Linked DNA regions of Homo sapiens: region 1 is linked to region 2. A link means that fine-mapping ties the variant in region 2 to the expression of a gene that starts in the linked region. Tissue or cell type: cerebellar hemisphere. Region 2 holds a variant in brackets; the other region holds the start of a gene. All regions are shown on one strand. Distances are from middle to middle.

The links. PIP is the estimated chance that this variant, and not a neighbour inherited with it, causes the effect.
Region 1: it holds the start of FAM163B, and the variant in region 2 is fine-mapped to the expression of FAM163B in cerebellar hemisphere (GTEx, PIP above 0.99). The same link has a PIP of 0.9 or more in cerebellum.

What each region holds. Positions count from the first base shown.
Region 1 is chr9:133,606,215-133,614,313 of GRCh38, forward strand. FAM163B (family with sequence similarity 163 member B) reads right to left here and starts at 3,175. Exons shown (of 3, transcript NM_001080515.3): 1 at 2,863-3,175.
Region 2 is chr9:133,650,126-133,658,224 of GRCh38, forward strand. DBH (dopamine beta-hydroxylase) reads left to right here. Exons shown (of 12, transcript NM_000787.4): 7 at 1,509-1,652; 8 at 2,121-2,159; 9 at 2,815-2,874; 10 at 6,398-6,525; 11 at 6,945-7,104. It overlaps DBH-AS1 (DBH antisense RNA 1), which reads right to left and starts at 7,283. Exons shown (of 2, transcript NR_102735.1): 1 at 7,002-7,283; 2 at 4,462-6,412. RefSeq lists an enhancer at 4,358-5,157. The variant C/T (reference allele first, on the strand shown) is at 4,995.

The sequences.
Region 1 (8,099 bases), 44 kb before region 2:
CCTCCACCAGCCCACTTCACCCCAGGGGCAACAGGATTCCTTCCCCTCTCCAGCAACCCCCAGCAAGCGGGGATTGGGCCAAGGCCTGCGGGAGGATTCAGCAACGGAGGGAGGGAGCTGGCAAACACTGAGGCCTCGGAACTCATCAAATCCCCTCTGGAGCAGATCCAGAAAGACTGAGACACTGCAAGAAGTACCAGTGCCAAGTGTGGCAGCAGCTGGCAGAGAAGCCCCCCAGCCCCACCCTGGCCTCTGTAGGGTGGTCCCCAGGACCACATGCTCTTGGCATCCAAAAGCCTTTTGGCCAGGCTCACGGTTGCCCCGGTGTCCCATGTGCCAGCAGGGAAGGCAGGAGCACCCTCATTTTTGCAGATGGGGATGCGGAATGATGCACCCGTGGTCTGGCCTGGAAACCACTCTCTCTGCCACACAAATTGCCATTTTACCAACACACAGATCAGGACTTGCTACTCTGAAGAGGGAAGTGGCGGTAGGGCCAGGAGCGGAGTGGAGGACAGAACAAGGGCTCGGCTGCTGCTCTGCCTCCCCTCCTGCCCCGAGAGTTTAGAGTCAGAGGTAATTGACTGAGATGTAATACATCTCTCCCCTCCCGAGTGCTGTAATTATTCCTCGCTGGAGCCCGCTGCCATGAGGCTGCAGAGGCAGGCCCACGTGGCAGGAGCCAGAGGTCTCACTGCAGGAGTGGGTCTCCATGCTGTGAAGCCTCACCCAGAACCAGCACCAGAAAAGTCAGGAATATAGAGCCAGCCCCTAAATATACAAAACGGGGGTGATCATGTGAGTAGGGAGTAGGGTTGGCACGGACTGGGGGCTTGGACTCAGGTCAGTCCGAAGATTTCAAAACTGCTCTGCACTCCCTCAATACCATGGCAAAAAGGGAGGAACTGCACTCCTCCCAGCTTTCCTACTCCATCCGGGGCTTAGATGAACAGAGCTGTAATGGCTCAGAGGGGGGACATGAAATGATCCACCCCACAATTTTGTACATGGGAGACTGAGGTCTAGAGAGGAAAGTGACTTGCCCAAGGTCACCCAAAAAGGTGGACAGAACTCGAGTCCCGACTTCTCCATCTGTGCCCACCTTTCCCCAGGTGCCCTTGCTCATGTTTGCTGATGGTACTGGCATGACAGACGTGTGTTGGGGACTCCAGCCTCAAGGGTAGGAGGAGCTCTGTGGGGCTCCTTGCCCTACCTGCTGGAGAGGCGAGGGTGGAGAAGCTGCAACACCTCTGTGTGCCAGGATTCTGAGTGGTGTCAGCACGTCCTGAGAGTCCAGCAATGCACCCTGGAGCTCCCACTCCCTCCCCATGCAAGTGGGGCACTGAGGCTGGGAGAGCCTGTGCATCCTTCCCAGACCCCCAGATCCTTCGGGAGCCATTTCCAAGCTTTCCGGCTGAGTCTAGACAAGCCGGCCCCATTGGAAACTCAGCTGATAGGGAAACCAAAACCCAGCTGGATCCAGGATACAAAGACTGCCCTGTGGGTCTTTTCATAGCATCGTGCAGATGCTCAACAAACTGCCAGCAAGTGCAAGACCGAATGAACAAAACCCCACATTTCCTGGGCCCCCGAGCCTTAGGGTGAGATTTTTTCACAAGCTGCCAGCACCTAAGCTGTTTAGGAAGCTTGCAGTCAGTGCACCAAGAGTTAAAACCAGCCCTTGCCCAGCCCAGGAAGTGCTGGTTCTCACCTGCTCAGGTGGGTAGAGCCCTGGTCACCTCCACTTCACTCTCAATTCTATAAGAGGGAGAAGGTGGGAAGATGGGCAAAGGTGCTTTCCCAGCAACCCTGAACTTTTTGGGGGTTGGTAATTACTGCTCTCCCCAGAAGCCCTGAAGAGCGTGAGTTGGCAGGGGCTGAGGGAAATGCAAGGGAGAAGGCTGGCAGGGTGGCCCGCTGGCTCTCCTGAGCTCCTGCTTACTGGGGAAGGTGCTAGGACGAATGCTGGGGCTCAGGCCTCAAGGATACTCCCCTTACCCTGCAGAAGGTTCCATGAACTTGACCCTTGAGTTTCTTGTCTCAGAGCCATCGGGGTTGCTACGGGACACACACTGGCAGGACCACTTGTGCCCAGGCAGTCCGTGGCTGCGGGAGGACAGGACACGAGTGGGGTGAGACAGTGGAGCCCTGAGGACCCATGTTGAATATCTCTTGGGTTTTTGGTGTGTAGAGTCTTTTCTTTTCTGGCTGAGGAAACCTAGTGTCAGTTAGGCAACCCCCCACCTGTCAATGAAGCAGAGATTCCTAACAGACAAAGGTGTGAGGTGGTGGTGACAGAGGCCGGCGTGTTTGAGGCCATCTCCACCACTTCCCCACTCTGTGATCGTGGGCAAGAGACCAAACCTCTCGGAGACTCAGTTTCTGCATCTGTGAAATGGGGCCAATGCCCCTTTCTCGTGGGTGTTGGGTGAATGGGATGGGATGAAAATGCAGCACCGACTCTGGAAGAAGGCAAAGCTCAGCAAATGAAAAAGTCTTAGCTCCTGGCAGGGAGAGAAGGCGGCCAGGTTTCCAGAGGGCTCTTCTGGGAAACTTTCCCTCCCCACTGCCCCCTGCCCCCAGGCCACTGTTCCGAGGGAAATGAAGCCCCCCTTCCTAAAGTGGGTCCCCCACCTCTCCCTTAGGCCCTCGTGCCCACCTGGGTCTCAGTCTCCTCCTCGGGGATGCGCTTTGAGGGTGGAAGCCAGGGGATGGGTGACGCCAGCTGGGTCAGGGGACCTGGTGCGAGGCAGCCGGGGCAGGCTGCAGTGGGCACTCTGGACGAGTGGGCACCTAGCTGGAGCTTTCCAGCCTGCGTCTTCTGCCCCACACCCCGTGACCCGCGGCCCGCTCGGCCCTTACCTTGAAGCATGGGAACCGCGCTGCCCCGGCCGCGAGGACTTGGGCGCACGTGACGGGGCGGGCGGGCGTCCGACCCGGGCAGGGCGCAGCTAGCGGCGGCCGCTCATGCCCAGGCCACGGCGGTGGCGCCTGGTGTGGCTGGGCGGGCGAGGCGGGCGCTGAGAAGCCCGGGAGGCCCCCGGGGAGGCGACTGCGTGCCCAGGCGGGCACCCCTGCCAGCTCCGCGCTGCGGCCGCGACTCCGGACGCCCCGGCTGGCTCCCTGCGAGCTGCACGCGCGGCTCCAGCCTGGTCCCGAGCGCAGGGCGCGCGCTGGCGGGGAGGGCGCGCGCCCGAGCCTGGCGGGGAGCGCGCGTCACCGGCCCGCGCGCGCAGTCGTCGGGGGATGCCGGGAGCGGCCTGGGGAGCTGTCCCTGGTGCTGACGGCTCGTCCGCTCTCGCCCGGGACGCGCGACCTCCTGGAGGCCTGGGGGTGCCCCCACCCTGGCCGGCGCCCTGCGGTGCTCCCTCCGCTCTCCGCCTGTTCTCGGGGCGTTCCGGCTTCCACAACGTTGGGATCTGGAGTCAGGCCGAAGCTGCTGCTTATCCGCAGTAGGGCAAGTCCCTTATCCTGGTTGAGCGGCTGGTTCTTATCTTTAAAATGGGGAGTTAACACCAGCACCTTTAGGGTTGGTCTGAGAATGAAATCCGATGATGTTTCGAGGCCCGGCACACCATAAGTACTTAATAAATGCTCGCCTTTGTTACTATTTATTTCCCTTCTCTGAGTTAGCAACCCCGGAGCAACTGAGAGGAGGAGCAAGGCTTACGCTGCTCCTGGTGAGTGGCTGTTTGGGGCATGGCGGCTGCCTTTGGATCTCTCCCACATCCACGGGGAAGGGGAGCAGATCCCTTCTCCCTGACCCCAAAGCACAGAGCTAAGACCAATGGCTAGACGTTAAAGCAAGGCAGATTTGGGCTGGATACGAGGGAGACCTTTCTGACCCAAGGCTCCTACTCCTGAGAGGAGTGCCCCAGGAGGCATTTCCCTGTTTCTGCAGGTCCTCGAGCTGAGCCTGCGGTCGCAGGGACCCTGAACGGAGAGAAATCTGGTGTTAAGAATGTTAGGAAGGCTTTTGTGTTAGAACATGTACAGCACTCAGAGCTGTGCCTGGTGGGAAAGCACCATATAAATGTGTGCTTTTTTTTTTTTTTTTTTTTTTTTTTTGAGCCATATCACTCTGTCACCCGGGCTGGAGTGCAGTGGCGTGATCTCAGCTCACTGCAACCTCCACTTCCTGGGTTCAAGTGATTCTCCTGCCTCAGCCTCCCGAGTAGCTGGGACTACAGGCATGCGTCACGACACCCAGGTTGTTCTTTTTGTATTTTTAGTAGAGACGGAGTTTTGTCATGTTGGCCAGGCTGGTCTCGAACTCCTGACCTCAAGTGATCTGCCCGCCTCGGCCTCCCAAAGTGTTGGGATTACAGGTGTGAGCTGCCACGCCTGGCCTTAAATGTGTGCTTTCATTATGATCAACCTTTAAGTTCTCTATAAAAAAACTCCATCCTGGTAGTAACCATAACCTTGCTTCATTCTAGACATGAGAATACTGAGGACAAACAGAAGAGTAAAGTGCTTGGAGTCCATTTCCCTTTTACAGATGGGCTGAGCACAGATGGGTGAGCAACTTGCCCATGGACAAGAGAGTGAGTGTTCACACCATACAGACATGCTCCAAATGTCCAGCCTGCTGCCTCCCCTGCTGGGGCCCCTGGCAAGGGCCCCTGCTGAGTTTCTCCAGGCTGATCAGGTCACTTTGACCATAGAGAGTTTTCTTATAGCAAACCAGGCTAGTCCTCCTTCCTCTTAACTAATGGGAAAAGCTGGTCCCTGCCCCCTGTGAGTATCTTGTTCTCTTCCAAGCAGGATAATTAAACATCACCTGCTTCATTTCCCAAGGGACCAGGGGCTGTGTTTGATTCATTAATTAACTGCGAGTAGTACCTGCTCCCACCAGGCACTTGTCTCATGATAAACATCACTCATTATGTGCTTAATGCGTGCTAGACACAAGGCTAAACACAGTGCGAGCATTGCCTCATTTAGTCTTCTCAGCGATCCGATGAGATATGGATACTGTCATTACCCTGACTTTGCAGGTGAAAACTTTAGGCTCAACAGCAGCAGACCTGAGGCGGATCGGCCTGATTCCCAAGCCATTGCTCCTAATCCCCTTCTTCTAGAACTTCTACATCCTTCCCAACCAGCCCCACCTAGAAAGAAGGATGGTAAACACGGATAGAAATTCCTTATAAGGAGAGAGAGAGAAAGGCAGAAAGAGAGAGAGCCAGGAGGAAGAGACAAACCAGCCAGCCAATCGATGTCCTAGGAGTTGACACAGGAATCCTTTAAATCATCACTTTTAGTCAAAAACTCCATTATGACAACTGAGCAACTTGTTTTTTATTTGAGAGTTGCAAGTGTGTGCCAAGAATTTTAAAAGCAACATCACTGCCAAGCCCTGTCTTTACCAACCAGCTCAATGCCCTTCCACTTCTCCCCATGCTGACTTTTTACTCAAACTCTGCAGAATCCTGCAGCTATAGATCTGAGCAGCTGGAAACCTCTGTGGAACCAGCTCAGACTCTGTAGCTCTTGGCCTCTTGACATGCTGGTTTCTTTCCCATGCTGTGGAGAGAGATGTGTTCCTGATGCCCGTGATGACGAAACCTTATTTAAAATGGAGCCCATTTTATTTGAAAGAGGTCTGAATATTACCCACAATATGTACAGTAGATGCCTGCATTGCCCTCGCTTTACAGATGGTAACAAAGGGGTGAAGTGACTTGGCCAAGGTCACACAGCCAGCAAAGAGGTGACTACACTGAATAGATTTCATTTGGATCGCAATGCCAGATGGTCACCACCAAACTCATTATTTATGTGCAAAAGCATGCCCTGATTTTAAGCAAAAACCAATTTCAGAAAATAAAAATGGGTGAGGGGAGAGAAAGACAAGGAAGAGTCTCTGGTCTGACTTTATAAAAACAATTCATCATCAGGATTCCCTAAATAGCAAGTTCTCCTGGTGCGTGCAAAAAAAAGGATCCTAGTTACACGCAGTTCTTTTAGGTTGGCCAAAAACAGGCCCGGGGGTGGGAGGAGTGACATTCTGCCGCCGGACTGGTTCTCCATCCACTACAATAAGCTGTTTAGTCGCGTGGCAACCTCAGCCAACGGCAGCTACTCTGTCCCCACCACCAGCATCATTCCACAACAGAGCTTCGTGGATATAACTCAAATTCAACAGATGGCCAAGTTGGTTGAACACCTCCCAACACATTGGTTCATGGGTGGCAGTTTACAAAGGTTCATTTTCCACTTAGGGCAAATGGGGCTTGCGTAAGATCAGCCTGACACTATACAAGCAGGACCTCTGTGCGCATCCGTTTCTTGGAGTCGAGTTGGATAGCCTCATTGCTCAAAGACTTACAGCCTCATGAAGAAGAGGCATCAGGCTTTCTTTCTCTCTGAGGATCTATATGTGCACAAGAGGTGCTCATTGGCTGGATATAGAGGAAAAAACAAAACCAGCGGTGGCGGGGAAACCCTGACATTCCAATCACACCTGCACCCCCATGCACAGTCCCCTGCACACTCGAATGGAGGGAACGACGTTCTTGGGAACAAAGGATGTGAGCAGCTGCTGTTGATGGCTGAGTCTCATTCTACAGAGGCAGAAAGAACAAAGTGCTCGAGGAATAAAGTTTCTGCCAGGATGTGGAGAGTAATGAGAATGATGGCCAAGAGCTTCTCCTATTCCCTTTCTGGGAACCCTCTGGAAGGGAGGAGCTCGCCATCTCCAGACATGTCTGAGCAGAGGCTGGCTGTCCACTTGCAGCACAGCTGGCACCCGGGGACCCCTCGGTGTTAGAAGTCTGTGAGATTCCAGAAGGGGCAGCTGCTCACTGGTCTGTGTGGGTGCCCCCTGGCCCCCAGCACCGACCTCCATTCAGCTGCTCGATGGATCTCAGGGCACTGAAAGGGGGTCCACGTCCGGTTTTCCAAGCTCCTCCTCATATTGGTGCCAGGCCAAACTATTGAAGTGGTTGCTGTTTCCACATATTTATGGAAATTACCTGGGCCTTGCCGCAGTTACTAGATTAACCTTTGTTTGGTCGTTGAATTGTTTCCTCTTCTTAGCCTGCAGCCATAAGACGTTCTGCAGTTGATTGACTGAGCCCAGCAACAGCCCCTTTGATCCGTTTTCACTGAACCTGTGTCCACTCAACTCCAGATGATCTGTGCAGGTCAAGATCAAGCCCATTTAGAGAAGAGATGAACTTTTTAAAAAGAAACTATTGAGAGATGGGTAACTGCAAGTCACTGTGATTACTCTGTGATGCCGAATAGGCAGAGTGTGCCTCGCATCCTGGGTCTGTTAGATTGGACGTCTTTTAGATGGGACCAGGAGAATGACGAGGTACCAAAGTGTGCAAGAGAAGGTGAGAGGGTCGGGCAGCAGAGTGTGCCAGCGGACAGAGTGGGAGGCGTGCGCGGGCTCAGGTGTGCAGCGTGTGGGGTGTTTCCATTGCCCTGGTTTGAAAAGACAGCCTCATCTGTGTGAAAAGAAATTACCGGTGGTTTTTAATTACTGCAACATTTTAAAACATTGTGACAGCAAGCTTGATGTGTTCGTTCTTTAAGAATCATCGCAGATGATGGATGAGGAGGAGATGGGGCTGAGAGGCGCTCGGGGACCCGTCAAGGGGTCTCTCCCGGCTCCCTCTGTGAATCACGGATCATCTTGACAAATCCTGCTGCAGAGTGAGAAGAAGTGAGACAGGAGTTATGGAGGATTTATTGTTTCAGAGCCTTCCTCCATTGCAGGGATTTTTTACTCCAGAGAAACATTAACAGAGAGTACTCCTAATCTGGGTTTTACTTTCTCAGCCAAAGCACTTCTTCACAGCTTGAGCAAATAAATGCAGGCCATGCCTACATTCGTTCATTCATTCCCTCACATACTGTGGGCGCAGAGACAGAGGAAAGAGTCCTCGTCATCATGAGCTCAGAGGGAGGTGAGAGTTTCAAAGGTTGATGGGACAGGGCCTCCTGAGGCAGGCAGAGGCAGGACAGGGACCACCCGGCTGATAGCTAGCATGTGTCTTGTGCTTATTACTGTTGAACTGTGCTGACAGCCCTGGGAGACAGGCACGATTCATTCATTTTACCGGATTTACAGTAAAGAACCCGAG
Region 2 (8,099 bases):
CATTGGGACCCTTTGGGCTCCCAGGCCTGGCACACAGTGGCCTCTCAAGCCATTGCAAGGGACACAAAGCTATAGGCGACGGCAAGGTCAGGGCGGCCGCTGCTTGGGAGCGAGAGGGAAGGAGCAAAAGTGAGTCCTAAAAAGCTCGGCCATCTGGGACCTTCAGGGATGGGGCTGTCGGGACCTTGAGCTCTGGGACCTGCTGACTGCATGAACAAACTGGGCAGAGCCTGGCAGCGGGTGGGCAAAAGGACAACTGACTCACAAAGAAAATGCTCGATTTCAGGAAAGACGTGTTCTTTTCTTTCCTTCTTTCCTTCTTTTCTTTCCTTTCTTTTCTTTTTCTTTCTTTTTCTTTTTCTTTCTTTTCTTTCCTTTCTTTCTTTCCTTCCTTCCTTCCTTCTCTTTTCTTTCTTCCTTCCTTTCTTTTTTTTTTTTTTTGATGGAGTTTCGCTCCTGTTGCCCAGGCTGCAGTGCAATGGCACAATCTTGGCTCACTGCAACCTCTGCCTCCCGGGTTCAAGTGATTCTCCTGTCTCAGCCTCCTGAGTAGCTGGGATTACAGGCACGTGCCACCATGCCCGGCCAATTTTTGTATTTTTAGTAGAGGCGGGGTTTTACCATGTTGGCCAGACTATTCTCAAACTCCTTACCTCAAATGATCCATGTGCCTCAGCCTCCCAAAGTGCTGGGATTACAAGCATGAGCCACCATGCCCAGCCATGGAAATGCATTTTCTATCTAAAAAAAGTTAGCATTAGGTTAGAGAAAACTTTCGTTCTCTGGAAGATTCTCTCATGCCCCAGTGATGGCATAAGACCTCTTGAGATGAGGGCTGCCATCTTTTCTGTGAGGCCGGCCTGCAGCCTCAGAGTGTCCAGCTGCAGCACCCCATGGTCACATCCATCTTGGTCCTGGATGACCACCTTCCAGTTGTAGCTACAGCTCCCAGCTGTAGCACGGGGTGATGCTGAGCACAGGGAGAATGCAGCCTTGGCTGCTTTGAAGCTGAAAGGAAGCCACAACGCAGGGCAGCTGAAGGTCCTGCTCGGCCCACCACGTAGGGGACCTGCCAAGTACCACCTTCTGCCACTTGCTTTTCCCTGGACAGCAAGCTCTTCAGCACAGAGGCCACGCGCTGCTCAGCTTGGTGGCTTTGCCACACCCTGTCCACGGGAGGCTCGCCTTAAAGGCCTGTTGACTGAGTGAAGATGAACCTGTCAGGCTTCAGGGGCTCAGGAGAGGATGAAGGACTCGGAAAGAAAGTCGCTCCTGAGTGGGACTAGGGGCTGCTTCTTTGGGAGCTGGGGGCTGTTGCGGCCCCCTCGCTCTTCCCCGTGAGGTTTCTGATGGTGGCTCTAACCTGGCCGGGGAGAAAGACCTAGAAAATGCAAGTGTTCCAGGGAAGCAAACTGCCCAGGGTGGCTGCTCCCTACCGGGTCCTGGCCATGGACGGGAGGGTCCCCTCGGGGGTCAGGCCCTGACACTGCAGCCCCCCGACCCCACAGGCACTGCCTCCCTCCGGGATCCACATCTTCGCCTCTCAGCTCCACACACACCTGACTGGGAGAAAGGTGGTCACAGTGCTGGTCCGGGACGGCCGGGAGTGGGAGATCGTGAACCAGGACAATCACTACAGCCCTCACTTCCAGGTAGGAACCTGCACCCCACCCCTGCCCCGCCCCCACACCCTGCCACCACACGACCTCCTGGGTCTACTGTTTCCTGACACCATAGGGATGGCTCCAGGCTGGCTTCTTTTTCCTGGGCCAGCCCCACCCGCCCCCCACCCATGTGGCCTGTGCTCCCCACTTGGGTGTCTGGTGTCTGATCGTAGGGAGGCCTCTGGCACATGGCAGATGGTGGTGGGATTCGGGAGACCCAGGCGGCCCTCTGGGAACATCAATCTTGGTCTTGGATAACCACCTTCTGGTTTGAATCTAATGCCCTCCCTGGCCAGAAGCCACACTTAGCGGGCTCTGGCTTCCACTGTAGAGGCTGGGGCAAAATGGACACCCCCAGAGGTCAGGGAGGCCTGAGGGAGGACACAGTGGCCGGGGGTCTGGTCTGCAGCTCTCTGAGGTCTCCTCTCCCCCACCCCTCGGCTCTGCCTGCCCCAGGAGATCCGCATGTTGAAGAAGGTCGTGTCGGTCCATCCGGTGAGTGCCCAGCGGGAAGGCTGTCCCACTCACTGCCACCAGCTGGGGTGGCTGAGAGGGCTGGGGGTGCCACCAGAAGGAGAGGGACACAGAAAGTGATAGGGGGAGGGAGAGCCATCCAGGGCAGGGGGAGGGTGCCTGTGGGTGGCTCTGGGCTGGGCTACCTCATGGGGAGACTCACTCAGGAGTTCATGGAGAGACGTTGGAAAGAGTGGAGCAGACAGGACACTCCCAGGGGACGCGTGTCCTCAGTCTGATGGGCCGACCACAAACCCGAGAGTGTTTGGGGGAGATGAGGGCACTAAGGCAGGCAGTGGAGCCCTGATCCCACAGAGGGCCAAGCCCAGGCCTCGGTGGGGACTTGCCCAAGTCCTTTGAGATGTGTCATGGCCCACCAGCTGCACCCCCACTGGCCTGGGCCCTGGCCCTGTTGTGACCCACTGGGTCACAGGAGCTGATGGTTTATAACTTGCTCGGGAACACTCAGCCTGTGACCTTCGCACATGAATCTGCTGGGCTCCTTGTAGTGGACGACAGGGACTGTACCCCAGAGGTGCCGTGGCATGCACAGTGGCGTGGTCCTATGGGGGCGAGGCCTCCAGCACCTGCCAACGCCAGGTGGCAGGTGCTGATGGTCACATTGGCTTTTCCTCAGGGAGATGTGCTCATCACCTCCTGCACGTACAACACAGAAGACCGGGAGCTGGCCACAGTGGTAAGTCACCCCCGCTTCCCCCTGCACCTGCCCAGGGCGAGTGTTCAGCCTGAGCCATCTGAGGAAGGATGACAGGTCTTGACTCCTCACTTAGGGCATGGGCTCGTCCCCTCAATAAGCCAGTCGTTCTCAGCTCCCTGAACCACAGTGGCAGCATCACCAGGGAGCTTGGGATGAATGCAACCTCCTGGGTGCCACCCCAGGCCCACTGAGTCAGAGACACAGGCGGTGGCATCGGGCAATCCATGTTTTAACAAGCTCCCAGCGGATGTTGACCCCTGCTCAAGGTTGAGAAGCACTCACACCAAGAAGCTTCTCAGCACCCGGGGCTGGTGTGGGGAGAAGCTGTAGGACAAGAGGTTGACCTTTGCCCCGTGGAGCTCAAGGTGCACCAGGGAGACAGGCCTGGAGCACCTGCTGCTAACAACAAGCAAAATTACAAAACAAAACTTTAAAAACCAGGTTGAGGAGGCAGAGGTGCGGGGACCTGGGAGGGCCTTGTCAGAAATGTGGCTGTCACATGGAGCCCAGGGGAGAGGGGAGGAGGTGAAGGAAGGCTCTGTGCAGGGGCTGCGTGCGGGAAGGCCCAGAGGACCAAGAACATTCTCAGGATGGAAAGGAGAGGAGGAGAGGGTGGAGACATGGGTGGGGGTCAGGCAGGATGAGCGTCAGCTGAGGATGCATTTTGGCTGGACTGCAGACAGTTCAAGGAGAATCTGCACTGGAGAGATCTATTTTCAAGGCTGGGTATGCAGGCAGCACCAGGACACGGGCAGCCACGTGATGCATCACGCAGCGGGGCTGCTTCCGGGAGCCAAAGGGGATGCTGTTCACAATTACCTGGGTCCCAGGCACAAGCCAGGGCTGTCCTGGCAAATGGGCCACCTTGCCAGTGGATCCGTGCCAGCTGCTTCGGTAACCATGGTGGTCTCCAATAATTATCCTGTGAATTGTGTGGCTCAAGTGGAGCAGACCTGGGTTACAGCTACCCTGACATCCCTCAGCGCCAGGAACTCAGGTCCATGTCACAGCCCTATTCTTTGTGTTTTAATCCAATGTGGATTCACCTGATGTTTACTGAGCCCAGACTGCCAGTGGTTTATTTTATTTTATTTTATATTTTATTTTTTTTTGAGACGGAGTCTCGCTCTGTCACCCAGGCTGTGTGTTCTCAGCTTGCTGCAACCTCCACCTCCCGAGTTCAACCGATTCTCCTGCCTCAGCCTCCTGAATAGCTGGGACTACAGGCACCCACCACCACGCCTGGCTAATTTTTGTATTTTTAGTAGAGATGGATTTTCACCATGTTGGCCAGGCTGGTCTCAAACTCCTCATGTAATCCCTCATGCTGGGATTACAGGCATGAGCCATAGCACCCAGCCAGTGTTTGTATTTTCACAGGTGAGACATAAAGGCTCAGAGAGGGCAGGCACTTGACCAAAGTCACACAGCTGATAGATGGCTGAGCTGGGATTTGACCCAGGGTCTTGTGCCTCACAGCTGTTACCCCACCCTTCCTGTCTCCCTTGGATTTCAGGTGACAAGTGTCCTAGGTTCCTGATCACAAACTCAGGGTGGAGACAGGACAGCTTTGTCAGTCCTTTATTCTCTCTAGAGGAGGTGCTCAGTATATCACAGCAGTGGCTGATGTCGGGTGCTTGCCACAGCTCAGCACTGCTCTAATAACTCATCCTAACCACACCAAGCCTTGCTGAGACCTCTGAGCAATCCCACCAGGAGATACAGTGAGGTCCAGCCACTCAGGCCACACAGCGAACAGGAGGCAGGGCTGGTATGGGTGCAGGTGCCAACCCCGACTGTGCCGCCTCTCGGCTAAGCACCTGTGCAGTGACTGAGTGGGCTCGCAAACAGAGGGCTCTGCAGGTGGAGCACCCCAGGCAAGTCCCCACCATCAGCCCCATTCTGCAGGCGCGGCCCCGGGGCCAGGGATGGGAGGGTCTTGCCGGGCATCCAGCGAGGAGACTGCATATTCCCTGCCCAATCTGGCTTCACGGCGGCGGAACTGACGCCACGTCCCAGGGCGTTCGGGGCTGCCAGGCCTGGTGAGCACCGCGGACATCTCAGATGGCCGTTCTGCAGGTTGAGGCCCTCGGTGCCAG[C/T]GTCCCCGTGGGCAGTTCTGTGGCTTCCCTGGCCCATGTCGTCCTCTTGGCAGTGGCCACATCACAGCACCAGGTGGGATCAAAGGGGAGGGCAGCTCCCCAGGTGGACCTGAGCTTCTCACACTCTGACAAGCCCTCGCCTGCTGATCCAAGACACAGTGGCCTTTGAAATTCGATTTCCTTCCCCAGGTGAAAGAGGAGAACAGATTCTACACAGGGTCGGACTCAGTTCCCTTTTGATGTCTGTGGTGGCAGAGGGTGGGGAGGGACAGGAACTCACACAGGAGGGCAATCGTCCCGATCTGACGGGGGCGGGATGGATGAGAAAAGCTGGGAAAGGAGGAATCCGGCCCAGAGAACAATGCTGGCAAAAACGCGTCCTGGCCAACAGGTGCCAGGTTTCGTCTCTGGGCAGAACTGTCCCATGCTCTTTGTCTGCACGGGAGGAGGGGGCGGCAGCTGGTGTAAGTGCCACGCCAAGCTTTGCCCAGTCCCTTTGTTCTGCCATAGAGTAAAGATTGCCTTTCTTCCCCACCAGCCAGATGAAATCCCCAGGCCCACAGCAGCTTCACAAACAGCGGGGAGCCTGGAGGGGCAAGGGTGGCCAGGGCGTCATGTCCCGGCCCCTGACCTGCTGGGATCTGAGCTGCTGCCGGGGGAGCTTTGCTCTCTCCAGCCCCAGCTCCTCCAAGCTGCTGCTGTTCTTCCTCCTATGGCTGAGGCTCCACGGTCACCAGCTCCAAGAGCAGCAACCCAGCGAGGGGCTTAAAGCTGGCAGTGGGGACTCAGAGGGTGCCTGCCCTGCCCCTCCCATGCGATGGCAGGCCGTAGGGTTGCCGTGAGAGGCTGGAGGTTGTCGCGGCCTCTAGTCACGGTCCTGTCTTATAGAGTCCCTGCTCCCCTCAGAGCCACGTTGGAGAAATGACTGGTGGACGGTGCGGGGCTGCAGTGGAAAGGGCCTCCCTTGCAGTCCTTGGCTCCAGGCTCTCGCTGGAGGTCATGGGGACAGCTTCCAGACAATGGCCGGGACGCTGGGTGCACTCAGGCTGTGCCACCGATGCTGTGGCCACCACGGGGCATCCCCTTGCCTGCTCTGAGACTCAGTTTCTGTACCCATAAAATGGGCACAATAACACCCCATCCGCTTGTCCCGTTTCATTTTTCCTCACAGCATCATCAGTACCTGATACGAATTTCCTGGTTGACTCACTCACTCACTGCCTGTCTCTCCTGCCAATGGTGGCAATTCCTTGAGGGCAGGGACTCGGTTCCCCAGAGCATGCCTGGCACGGTGCAGTGAACAGACGAGTGGACGCAGTGTACACGTGGGTGCGGCGAAAGCTGCTGGATGGCAGCGTCTGCGTGGCATGGCCCGGGGCTGACGGGTCTCCTCCAACTTGCAGGGGGGCTTCGGGATCCTGGAGGAGATGTGTGTCAACTACGTGCACTACTACCCCCAGACGCAGCTGGAGCTCTGCAAGAGCGCTGTGGACGCCGGCTTCCTGCAGAAGTACTTCCACCTCATCAACAGGTGAGGGCTCCCTGCACAAGCTCCCTGCCCCCAGGGAACCCCGACACAGAACCTCGGGCCTGTTAGGCGGCTGGGCAGATTGGAGGAGTCCAGGCTAAGTTCTAGGAGCAGAGACCTGTGGCGGCATCACTCACCCCTCCCCTCACTCGTTTCCTGCTGAGTCTGGATTTGGCTTCAGAGCCTCCTCAACCCAGCCTGCAGCAGCCATTACCCACCCGCCAAGGTGACAGGAGAGGTGAGGCCGTTGCCGGTGAAGGCAGCATCTGGGGTGGCCTGGCGGAGGCAGCGGGGCTGGGGAGGAGGTGGCAGGACGGTTGCCCCAGGGACAGGACTCGAGTTGCAGGGAGGTGTTGCTGGTGCCCACTGGGCTCCCTGCCCGTCAGCTGCTCCCCAGCCTGGCTGTTCCTTGTCCCCACCAGGTTCAACAACGAGGATGTCTGCACCTGCCCTCAGGCGTCCGTGTCTCAGCAGTTCACCTCTGTTCCCTGGAACTCCTTCAACCGCGACGTACTGAAGGCCCTGTACAGCTTCGCGCCCATCTCCATGCACTGCAACAAGTCCTCAGCCGTCCGCTTCCAGGTGCGCTGCCATGGGCCCGGGTGGGGCATGCAGTCAGGCAGGCCTCATGGGGGGCCCCAGTGAGGGGTGATGGGTCTGCACTCCAAACTGCTGGCAAAAGCACTCGCACAAGACAATGAGAGCAAGTGCCAGGTGGTGACACATAGGCCTAGACAGCCAGCCAGCCAGCAGAGAGAGAGGAGAGAGGAGAGAGAGGAGAGAGAGGAGAGAGAGGAGAGAGAGGAGAGAGGGAGAGGGAGAGAGGGAGAGGGAGAGAGGAGAGAGAGAGGAGAGAGAGAGAGAGAGAGAGGGAGAGAGAGAGAACCAATAACGAGGCAAGGAAGGGAGGGCAGGCACCCTCTCTGGTGACACCTCCACACTGTACCGAATGCCAAATGCAGGTGGTGTGAGCAGGGCGCACTAACCTGCCTAAAAATAAAGCACCAGGGGAGGGGAAGGTAAGAAACGAACCAGTCTGAAGCTGCGAGCTGGTTTTTTCCTCCTTATCTGAGACCCACTGGTATTCGAAGGCATCTAATTTATCCTGGGCCCACTGGGCTGTGGTCAGGAGGCCAGGGCCTATGCAGAGTTAGTCGCGTAAGGTGCCGCAGCCTGGAGATCCAGGAAGATCCTTCCCAGAAGCATTTGGGAGCCAGATTAACTGCTAAGTCAAACATCCTCAGCACCAAGGGAAGGAAGGGCTAATACTGGCTTGCTGAGAATAGTGTGGGGTGGACGTCTGATGGGGTTGAAAACTTGGCATTTGGTGTAGCCTTGAGGGGAAGAGATAGCTAAAAAATATCAGAGCCTGCAGCCAGGGGCTCTGGTTGCTACACTAGGGTGAATGATTAAATTGGGTGGGGACAGAGGCGGGGAGAGGCCTGGATGACTCCCAGGTTCCTGACTAGGTGAATGGGAAGCCAGGGGAGGGGGCATTTACTGAGGTGAGGACCCCCAAAAAGCAACTTGGGGGAGCAGAGTGAGTTCAGTTTGAGACAAGCTGAGTTTGAGGGCAA